2 separate regions of the Homo sapiens genome follow, and region 1 is linked to region 2. A link means that fine-mapping ties the variant in region 2 to the expression of a gene that starts in the linked region. Tissue or cell type: lung. Region 2 holds a variant in brackets; the other region holds the start of a gene. All regions are shown on one strand. Distances are from middle to middle.

The links. PIP is the estimated chance that this variant, and not a neighbour inherited with it, causes the effect.
Region 1: it holds the start of TNR, and the variant in region 2 is fine-mapped to the expression of TNR in lung (TOPMed, PIP above 0.99).

The regions. Positions count from the first base shown.
Region 1 is chr1:175,740,613-175,746,369 of GRCh38, forward strand. It overlaps TNR (tenascin R), which reads right to left and starts at 2,983. Exons shown (of 23, transcript NM_003285.3): 1 at 2,614-2,983.
Region 2 is chr1:175,597,739-175,603,495 of GRCh38, forward strand. The region is part of intron 1 of TNR (tenascin R); the gene reads right to left. Among named protein-coding and RNA genes, the nearest start is that of TNR, 140 kb to the right of the region's middle. RefSeq lists an enhancer at 2,922-2,991. The variant A/G (reference allele first, on the strand shown) is at 2,173.

The DNA of each region.
Region 1 (5,757 bases), 140 kb after region 2:
GAACTTAGTGGCTTTGTCTCCAGATTGCTGGCCAGATATGATGGCCAGGAATGCTGCAGAAGTGGCATTATATGTAAAGTGAGTTTGTATCCAGTTTCCCACTCCTCTTCTAGTGGTTCTATAGGTGGTCAGAGCCCAGCCCTCTCCTGCTCCTTAGTCATCCTTGCCACATTCAGAGCCACAGAGGACTCAATGAAGGTGGTCCCAGAAAAACGTTCTTAGAGAGAACAGTCACCAAACACCCAAAGCCAAGACATCCATGGCAACATGCCCCAGATAGGGTGGCTTCAGCTGGGATTTCTGGGGCATGGTGATGTGACAATCAGGTGCACGACATCAGTTCAGCCTAGATGCCACCAGCCCAGGGTTCTCTCTTTGCAGTAAGCCCAGAGAGCTCTTTACCTGGCTCTTGGCCATCTTCTTAGCTGAGAAGTAAAGGCCAGCAGCACCTTGAGACTTCTGGCTGATTCTCATTCTTCACCAGAGAGAGGCCATTGCTCCACACTGAGTTCCCTAAAAGGCTTTGGCTGCAAGTCTATCCAATGGGGAGCAATCCATTCCTTCTCTCCTGCACATGAGCATTACTGCATTTCCTAGGTGAGGGAATATTAGCAGGCTAGAAGTTCTATTTCTGCTTTCGCTATCCTCTGGCTTCCCACTTTAAGCGTCTGTGTCTCTCCATTTATAAAATGGGTCCAATAATGTCACTGAGCACTTTTTTTTCAGAGAAAATTTAAGGGCATTAATGAGATAATGACTACTAAGTATGGTGACTTCAGTAATAAACTGTGGTTTTGGACAGGGTCCACTGCAAGGGCATAATTTTTTAAAAATCCTCAGTGATGTGTCATGCAGAAATCTATCCACTCACTTGTTCAAACTGGAAGATTTCAAGGACAGGAGGTTTGGAATGTTAAAATACTGAATGAGTCAGTGTTGGTTTCTGATGCTCTGCATTTGTCTATTTCAGTCTTTCTTCCCTACCCTTACAACCTCTGACTTCACTGTCTTCCTGGATGCATTCTACTTCCTGCCACTCTAGGGAGATGCTAAGATTTCTGGATCCAATGCCAAGCATAGTAAAAAAGAAAAGTGGTGCCATTTCACTCAGAACTGTGTCTCTCACCCAGAAGGCTCCCCAGCCAGAGGCAGAGAGTATTTTCTTCATCTTGGAGAAGGGGCCCATTGTGCTGAATTAAAAATAAGACAAAGAATCACCATTCTAGGGTCCATTTGGGGTTGGAAAGAGTGAAACCACCCCACCTTGCCTATGTATCTCCCCTGTCTCAACACACTTGAAGAAAGTGACCAGAACCATAAACAGTTAGGGGTTAAATCAAGGGAAGACTTGCTCCTACAAGAAGCCACATCTCTTTCAAGTTCCCTGTAGGATGCTGGCTCCACGGAGACTTGAATGATTGAAGGAAATCCTCAACACCACTTGTTGAATGACTCAACCAGGTAGGTGTGGCCAGGACTGAATGGGGCAGGGGCAGGCCTATAGTGTCTCCAAGACAATACCAAAGCAGATGCAGGGAATTGACTGAACATACTTCAGAGAGGCAGAAAGCAGGAGAGACAGAGTAATACCTTGCAAAAAGTAGCAGCAGTGAAGAAAGAAGTAATAATGAGCTCCTGTTTGCAGAGCCTCTCAGTGCTGGAGGAGAACAGAGTACCACTTCAAGCCCTCCTGAGTCTGGGACAAGTCTAATTTTGTTTCTGCTCACCCTAGACATATAGAGACAAACCTTTATTCTTAGTTGTTTTTCACTGCCAAATGCCCCAGAAAACAGGGCAGAACAGACTTTGTCTTCTTTCCAACCACCCATAGCCAAAGATGGCATAAAAGTGGAGGGTACCTCCTGCCTCCTTGCAAATGTAATATAACCCACACCAGCCAGTCTCTGCAAAGCTCAAGACACTAGCACTTTCCTACCACCATGAAGTCAGAAGGGACCTCAACCCCCCAAAGCCGCCCCAGCCTGAGCTTCACCTGTTGCACCTGCCCACTTACCATGGGTTCACACCAGAAGAGAAAGTAAAAGGTCAGGTTGGGCTCTCTCCACAGCAAGAGCCCAGAGAATACTAGGAAACTGACATTTTACAAAGCACCTCTTTAAAGCTCTCTCAGAGGTGCGTAACTTTTAACTCTACCTCCACTCCCAACCCCCCAGGCTTCCTTTGCAACTCTTTCCCACCATGGATGGCTTGTCGGGAGAGAGTTAAAGAAGGTGCACGACTAATTCCCCAAACCATCTCGCTTATCTACAGACAAAAAGAACAGCCTTACATGGAGACACGCAGAAACCACCCGCAATTTAGCTCAGACCTCACCTGTCTTATGCAACAGTACACACACACACACACACACACACACACACACCCGCAAGGCCAGAGTCCAATCCCCCTTTAATTCGGTAAACATAGTTTTGCGCCTTTCTTTTCCCTACGCAGAACCCGACTCTACTGGCAGCAGAGAAATAGATGTAACCCTAGTGCCAAATGCCTTGCAGAACACACAGATACACAGGAACCAAAATGCATCTCATAGCTCTCCTTGGTGCTGAAATCACGTTAGCCAGAAAATCAAAGGAGCGAGTGCTCTGGACTTACCCAGGCTGGGGGTGGGCGGCCGGGGAGCGAGAGGAGCTTCCTGGGAAGAAAATTCTTGCTTGCTCAGGCTGGAGCCAGCTGATGCGCTCACCTAGAGAGCCCTCCTCTTTCCCTTCTCTTCCCTTCCTCCTATTCTGGGAGGAAGAGACAAGGCTCCACGAAAGAAATGAAACCCAAGCTGTCAGGGCTACGGGTGGAAGGAGAATGAGGAGGCAACCAAAATAAGATCAAAAAGTCAGGTGGCTTCACTCCACTAGTGGTAATTCCTTGGGTCAGAGAGGACCCCCTTCTCTCACTCTCCCTGGGTCTGCCCGTCTCCTCTGGGTGTTGAGCCAACAGCCTTAGCACAGTCGGTTCCTGCCTCTGACGTGAAAGAGAGGAGGAAGCCTGGGACTGCTTTGCTGTCTCTCTCTCTCTCTCTCTCTCTCTCTCTCTCTCTCTCTCTCTCTCACGCGCTCTCTCTTTTCCCCTCTTGCTGAAATTTCAGCAGCATGATTTTTTTAAGCCTCCGTTTTTTCCATCCCCCTACAAGCAGCCCCCTAGTGGACAGAAAAGAAAAGCATCCTAAATCCTCTTGAACAGTCCAGATTCAGGCACAGAAATACTCCCCGCACCCAACTCTTGGAGCTGCCTCTGCATAGGCAGGGTCCTGAAGAAGATAGAGGCTTCCCTCTGACCAACCCAGATAAGAAGAGAAAGGGAGAGGATGGAAGCTTTTGCAGATCCTTTGCCCATGATTGAAGGAGAAATCCAGGGTGGAATGGGTTGGGATAGAATGTTTTGGAATAAGGTCAGTTGTGGGGTTCTCAAGTGGTTTGAGGTCCGGGCTCAGCAGAAGGAACCCTCCAAAAAGTCAGCGTCTGCAGCCAGGTGAAGTATGTGTATACGTAGCACAACCCAGGCATGGGAATGCCTAAAGAGGCAGAGGATACAGGGAGCTGGCCCTTCATCCAACTCCACAATATAGCTTTTTTGTAAAGCTAGTAAGAAAAATATCTGAAAAGATATGGCCTGAGATCATCTCAGAAGTAGAGACAGAAGTGACCTTGATGCACATTTATGGAGAACCTTGGCAGAGAAGGGGCATCAAGGGGTCACTGCTCATAGGCTCATAAGGGATATCTAACATTCTCTTTTAAATGTACAGCCACACAGCCTCCCGGAAAGAGTCCTAATACTTACATCTAAAAATCTGAGTCCTGGTTTCAGACTGCCACTTGCTTACTGGACATTTTGCTTCTCTATGGCTCAATTTTACTGTTTGTAAAATGTGGATAATGCTGCCCCCTCCCTACTGAATAGGAATGCTAAGGGACTGGAATGATATAGAAACATAGAACCTCAGGATTGGCAGGGAATTTAAAGGTAATCTTATACAAACACTCTTCTTATATTTGATTCACTCCTGGCAAATAACAATAGCTAACATTTATAGAGTGTTTATACCAGGTGCTAGGCACTGTTATAAGCCCTTACATGTATTAGCTCATTTAAGCCATACAATAACTCTATAATGCAGAGGCTATTATTGCTACTCTATAGACTGGGAACTGAGTAACAGAGGAATGAAATAACTTTCCAAAGATCACACAACTAGTGAGTGTCAGGGATGGTAATGGAACCTGAGCCATCTGACCCTGGAGCTTCCTCATTGAATTACCATGTTCTATAAATGTACACTTCAGGAGTGACATTTGAAGTAAATAGAAGATAGCACCACAGTTATCATTGCTTTTATTTATGACAAAGTGCCTAGATTGTTACAATAAATTTATATGTGGCTGAGTTTTTAAAATAAAATATTTACCACTAGGGGTGCCAAACAAACTGTGGAAATTGCTATTACCGATGAGAATCTCCTAAGAAAATTAATTCTCTTGGTGATTTGGGTAGTTTCACATATACAAAACTGGCTTTAAATCTTATAAAATTGGAAACTATTGGGTTTTAACATCAGTTCAGAAGACACATCACTCAATTTCTGTACCAAAAGCAAATTATTGCCCACTGCCTAACACAGTGCAAGAACGGAGCCAGCAATTTGAAGAGCTGAAACGTTGTAATGCATTCAGGTAATAAACGCTCAGTGAGAAATTGACATTTTCTTCAGAATCTCAGAATTATGAATTCCTTAGCTGAGGTGGCTTACTTTTTCTGGCTTTTTTTTTTTTTTTGGGTGAAAAGTGGATGAAGTAGGACAAAGATGGTAGGTGACAATTAACAAATCATGGTCCCTGTCCTCAACAGAGTTACCAGTTCCTCAAAGGGGGAAAGAAAGAGCAAGACACAAATGATTACAATTCAAGGACTAAGTGCCAAGAATTTGGGCAGTGAGCACATGGAAAACACAACTAACTTGATCTTTGAGGGCTAGGGGAATTCCTAAGGTATGCAGCATCTAAGCTGAGGCCTGAATAATCAGAAGTCTTCCCAGCAAAAAGTGGGTGAGAGAATTAAGCTGAAGGCATAGCATGTGCAAACTCATGGAGGAGGGAAAGGGGAAAGAGCATAGTAGGAAACTTTCAAAGAAAGTATTACCCTTCCACTGACAAATGGGGAATCTGAGGCTCATAAAAGTTAAGTGGCTTGCTCAAGTTCACACATCTAATAAGTATAGAACCCAAATCAAATGCACATCTATTTGACTCTAAAGTCATCCCCTTTGTGAAGCATGATGATATCTTCTCTCATCACTTAGAAGTGCCCACACCATTTAATAGAGTGTTTCAATAACATAGAAGCTAACATAACCGAGTGAGGGTGTAGCATCTACCAGGAAGCTGGAAGTATGATCTGTTACTATTAGATGAGAAACCCATAAAAAAGGCACTAGTCAGTTCAAAAAAAGGGGAAATTTAGGGTGCTAGTATTTTTTTTCTGGTGGATGTACAATTATTAAATGTATTGGGAAGTAGGAATATTTCAGAAGTACGGAGACATCAGAGACTTGGATTTGAAATGAAGATGAATGTAGAAACGGCTAAAAGAAGGTTTCAGATTAAGTGCTCTGGGAGCCCAGAGGAAGGAAAGGTCCTTCTGCCTAGGAGGGGTTATGGGAGACTTCACCTGGGAAGTGGCCATTCATCTGGACCGTAAAGAATGTAGGTTCAGGAGACTGCTCCATTGCACCTAGACATTTTATAA
Region 2 (5,757 bases):
GTAAATTAGCATTGATCCATTCACCTCCAAGCATTTGGCCAGGCCCAAAAGAAAAACAGATGGCAGTTAGGGAAGAATGAATTTTAATAAAAATGGAAACTACTGACTTTTCTGCAGTAACATTATTCCTCTAGGCTCATTTCCATTGTTCTCTGTCATCACTAGAGAACAGAGAAGGGTTAGTGAAAATTGAACAGACCTCTGCACCAGCTAGGGTCTTTAAATCCAGCTTCTCAAGAAGTTCACAAGAAATCAGATAATCTTAGATTATCTTTCCTGGACCTCACCTTTATCATCAACAAATAATTCTTTCAGGCCACTACACACAGGGCATGTTCCTGAGGATGCCGAGAACAATATAAGGCAGTAAGGCAAGGGACCGTCCTTGCATTAGTCAAACAGGATGTGTACTCAAGAACAACAGTAACAGTCTCCAGAAATCAGTGTATGAACTTCCCTCAGGAAGTAAAGATCACCATGCAAATGCGAGGTGTTTTCCCACCGGTGATTCAACTGTAGACCTCATTTAGTCCAATTCTCTATTTCAGTTAAGTTTAACGATTATTTTTAGAGCATTTACCAAAACTAAAGGCCATACAGGTTAAATGACTTGATCAAGATCACTTCATTAGTTATATCATTGAAAACATAATAACAAATCAACTCACCAAGATTAGAGGTGCTATTTTCCATGGGACACAAACAAAAGGAATATTAAATGCTGCAGGAATTCAGGCAATACAGTTATAGTTTTCAGCAAGCATGTTTTAGTTACCAAAGCCTTGGACGTGGGCATGAATACATGCTTATGGAATGTACAGTATGCTGTATAAACAGAAGGCATGCGTGAAATGGCATGGTGACTGTGAGAATCCAAATTCTAAAAGGTTATGAGTGTCTAGAACTGGAGAACCAAATGAATAGAGGTACATTTAGGAGAAGTATGCACTCTGCAGTTAGTTTCTAGAAGGACAGAATATGGGTCACATCTGACCCTGCTCCAGAGACTTTAGTCAAGTGTTGTGGGAAGGCACTCAAAGAGCCAAGGTCTAGGTAAGACTCCATTAGGTCAGGCACCCAGCCGCTCAGTGGCATGTAAATCACTCTGCCACTCTAGAATCTCAAGTTCCCCAAGTCTTCACATTTTCTGGAATGCTCTAATGAATCTGTAAGCTCCATGAGGGCAGAAATCCAACGTGTGCAGGAACCCCTCCCTCTTTGTTGAGCAGAGAGGAGATGCGTCCTTAAATCGAATGCACTCTTAGGTGGCTCCGGCTCTCCAGGAGCTAAAGGGCTTCCCCAAGGTCACACGTTCAGTGACGGAGAGGCAGGGTGGAGCTGCGGTCTCCAGACTCCATTCCAGCCTCTATGGGCCCCGGGTTGCGGGGGGTCACCAATTTGCAGAGCTGAGGGAGAAGAGAGGAGGGAGGAAGGAGAGCAGGAGGGAGGGGAAGCTGTCCCCAGCTGCCAGATGGGAAGTGTCAGCTTGGCCTTGGCCACCTCGGGTCACCGCTCCTCCCTTTCAGGCGCCCGGGTTTGCCCACCGCGAAGAGCAGTGGCGGAGACATCGCAGCAACGCTAACGGGGCAGACCGCATAGGGGCCCTGAGAGGCACACACGCGCCTTCTGCTCACACCTCAGGCAGTCGGAGGGGCCCGGCGGAGCTGTGTTCGTGTTGTCATGGCGACGGAAGCAGACCATTAGAGCATTACGAGGAAATGAGAAGACTTGGGGTCTTGCGATCGCCGCCGAGTGACGGAGTAATTCGCAGATGCCACCGAGCGGTGGGGCGGCGCGGTTAATGGGGTCTCTGCTGGGCTAGTGTCCCGCATCAGCGGTAATGGGGCCGGCCCACCCGGAGGCAGCCCGGAGCAGCGTCGCCCCAGCAGGCTTATGCGGACCTGGCTAACTCCAGAGGCCGGCGGCTCCTTGCGGTGGGGAGAGGAGGACAGAGGGGCCAGGTGGAGCGGGGTCTGCAAACAGCCCAGGCTTTTCGTGAGACCCATTGGCGGGTTCCCTGCCACCAATATGCAGTCTCACAACCGTTTTCTGTCCCACTTGAAACCAGAAAATACACTTCCCAGATAGCAAGGAGGGGTGATTCGGATTCAACTCTTGCTGCAACTCGGGATGGAGGCAACCCCTCGGCGTGGGGATGCTGAGGCAGGCAAG[A/G]GACTGGGGCCGGTTCTACAGGAGGGAGGAAAAGAGTGAGCCATATGATAGAGTAAAATCCCTTGCAGGACTTCCATTCGACTGCACGCCTACTTATCCTGGCATTCTGCATGTTTCCAGCATTTTAGGAAAGTGTCACAGTGGTTAATTAGCACAGACTCTGGAACTGGACTCGGGGATTGGAACCCCAGTTTTACCACTTGTATTAGCTGTGATCTTGAGCAGGTTACTTAACTCCCTTGTGTGTCAGAGAAGTTCTGCATTTGTACAATGGAGATAATAGTAATATACCTTAAAGAGGTGTTATGAGGTGTATATTTAGAATGATGCCTGGCATATAGTAAGAATTAACTATTTTTACTATTTAGCTATTACTCGTATTATCATAAGTATTATTAGTATCAGTCTGGATTTATGCAGTGAGATATCCTATAAAATAAGAGGGTTGGAAGAAGTGATCTTCCATTGCAGTATGTGGAACAGTTCTGCAAACATAGTTTTGTATGTTACTCTTGGCTACCAATATCTATTTGATTTAAAGGTGATTTGGCTTAGCAGAAAGCAAGGCTTCTGTTTATGTCTATACATGAGATGCACCACCAGACACTGACTGTATTGAATTGAATGGCCCCACAGCTATAATACCCACAGGGTTTGCACGTAAAGATAGGGCCACCATGTACAGTTGAGTTGGTTGTATATCCTGCACAAAGGTGCCCAGCTGAGGGGTGAGTAGGAGCAGAACCCCAGCCCCTGCTTTACTCCTGAAGCTATGCTCCCTGGCGTAGTGCTATGTCTGCCTGGAGGAAGGAGCTCATTTAAAAAATTTTCAACAACTTACCTTACGGGCTTTCAGTAGCCTTGTGATCTTTGGGAAGGTCACAGCAAAACGAAAACAATGAAAAACCCAAAAAGCAAAAAACAGAAAACAAAGCATGACATTTAGTCAGATGCAGATCCTGAATTTAAGACTTACGCTACAGAGGAACTCCTGAGTTTGTTTGTGGTCTTGAGTGAAAAAAAAATTTGCATTTCCTCTGACAGTTCCTCATTCTCTTTCCTCTAGCTTTTGCAGCATTTGTTTAGATAAACTTTGCTGAGGAGATCAAATCACTTTGCTTATAACAGAAATGATATTGTAGTTTCAACATATTTATACAGATTTATATGTGTGCCAAAATATGTTTACATATGTAGAAACATGAAGGTACAGAAATGCCTTTATCTTCTGTTTGTGTTTAGCTGACTTTGACAGTCCAGTAGCTATACCTCTCAGAGGAGTCTGGTAAAAACCGCCACATCCTGCACTTGCTCTGCAGCGGGTAGAGTTTGGGTAAGGTCACTTGGCCAGTTCTTACTCAGAGATGCGGCCCTGAGGCGCTGAAAAAGCCGAAACCCTCGCCTTTGAGGTTGGCCATGGCCACTATTACACAAAACTTAGTCTTTCAATTTGATATATGTTTGCATGTCTTTGGGGGACTTAGTGTGTGATCCACAGACTTCTAGTCATCATGGCAGAAGAGAAAGGTGAATGGGCCTAAACTTAAGAGGCCTGAGTTCCAGTTCTGGATTTGTAATATTAAAATCTGTACAATTTTGATAAACACTTAGCCACTCAAGTTTGAGTTCCTTGATTTGAAAATAGGGATAATTATACTCATGAATATTTATGGAGATAAAATGTTAAAAGCCATGTGAGAATTATGAAAACGCTATATACAGTCAAGAAACAGATTCAACTAAGAGTCATTGAGAACCTGTTGTGTGCCAGGGCCTGAGTTAAGCAATACCTAGAGAGAAATCGCTCCCCTCTCCACTCACTTATGATCTGTAAGATGAGGAGGTTGTATTATACTATCTCTATAGTTTATTTCAGCTTTAGGGCTTTTAAAACTCTATTCCTACCTAATAGAATAGTCATATAATTTTACAGCTTGGAAGGACTCCATCTTGGGAGGAAGAATGAACATACTTGCAAAACACACATGAACAATTTAAAGAAAAGCCATGAATAAATGCACACAGTAAGGAAGGTATCTTCAGAGGACACACTTGGCCCCACTGTTGGCCTGCCCCAGCACCCCACTGTATAGAGCAGGGAGATCAAAAACCATCTGGGGAGACTTAGCATGCAGAAGAGGAAGGATGTCAACCAGACTCTCCTCTGAGTGGGTTTGGAAAGTATGTGGATCTGCTTTAAATTGATAATATAAATATTTGTCCTCCAGGCTCCTGCCAAGACAATGTATCTTCCAACTACTTGCTGCCTGACTCTAATCCAAGGACCAAAGGCAAAAAAAAAAAAAAAAAAAAAAAAAAAAATAGCGTTCCTGTAATTGTCAAAAGGACATGCGATCTACTCATTCCTCTCTATATCACACTGGTCCTCAAATTGCATCAGAGCTTGTTAAAATACAGATTCCCTGGCTCCATTCCCAGAGTTTCTGATTCTATAGGCCTGAGTTGAGCTAAAAAAATGTGTATATCTAATAAGTTCCCAGGTGATAGTGATATTGCAAGTTCAGGACTACTACACCGTGAGAACAGCTGGTCTGACTAACATCAAGTTTATCAACAGGTCAAGCCTAAAACAAACAGATGCATACTTGTAGCACATTGTTCTGATCCCTCAGTAGAAGCAGGGTGTCTTGAATTTACGGACACTGCACTGTGTCCTTCTCTTGCATTGAGGAATAATACAAATAATGGCCTTAAGAAATGACTGGCATCTTCACTCTTGTGAAGTTGTTGAGGATGCAGATTCCCACATCTCTCAATGTCCTTTTATTAGTATCCAAGAAAGAAATCTCTATCAGTTATTAGAAGGAGGAAGAAGTGCTCATTTTATCCCCAGAATGATTGGGATGCTTTCTTCTTTCAGGTTACATGACTTCATTTGCTTCATTAGCTTCCTAGAAAGCTCCGAGACCAACAAACAGCTCATTTCCAATAAACGGGGAGAAACTTATGGCACATATTTGAGGGTACTAATTTTCCCTGTAATATATTTTTATTCAACTTATTTTTTCTTTGTCTTCTTCTCCTTTGTAAGTTTTCCCAAATCTTTCCTAGAATAAAGGAGGAAAAAATAAATACATACATAATAAAATAAGGAAATGGTGAAAATTACGTGTGCTAGTTCTGAGGGGACAAGAAATAACCGAGTAATAGAAGTTGGTGTCAGTAAACGTGTGTTGTCTGTTTTAGTGTGGTGGGTAACAAAAGTGATTTACCCAAGGTCCACCAGCTATGTGCTGTAGACCTGGCACTAAAGTATAAATCCTCTTGCTCCAGTGACAGAGACCTTTTTTTCTAGTCTTTCCTGCTTCCCATACATAAAGCATTGAGATAACTGGGCTCCTGCCTCAGTGTTTGGTGTCAAGTTATCCAACCTGAGAAATCAGTAAAGTGAGTTTGCTTCAAGCCCAGGCATTCCTCCTCCCAAAGGAAATAGTAAGGGGTCAGTAAGAATTGACAAAAACTTGAAAAGATGGCCTGAATCATTAATAGAGAAATTTTTTCAAGTTGCGAGGGGACTAATCCTTCCTTCTACTTCTCAGCAGTCACTGTAGCAATTACTGAATG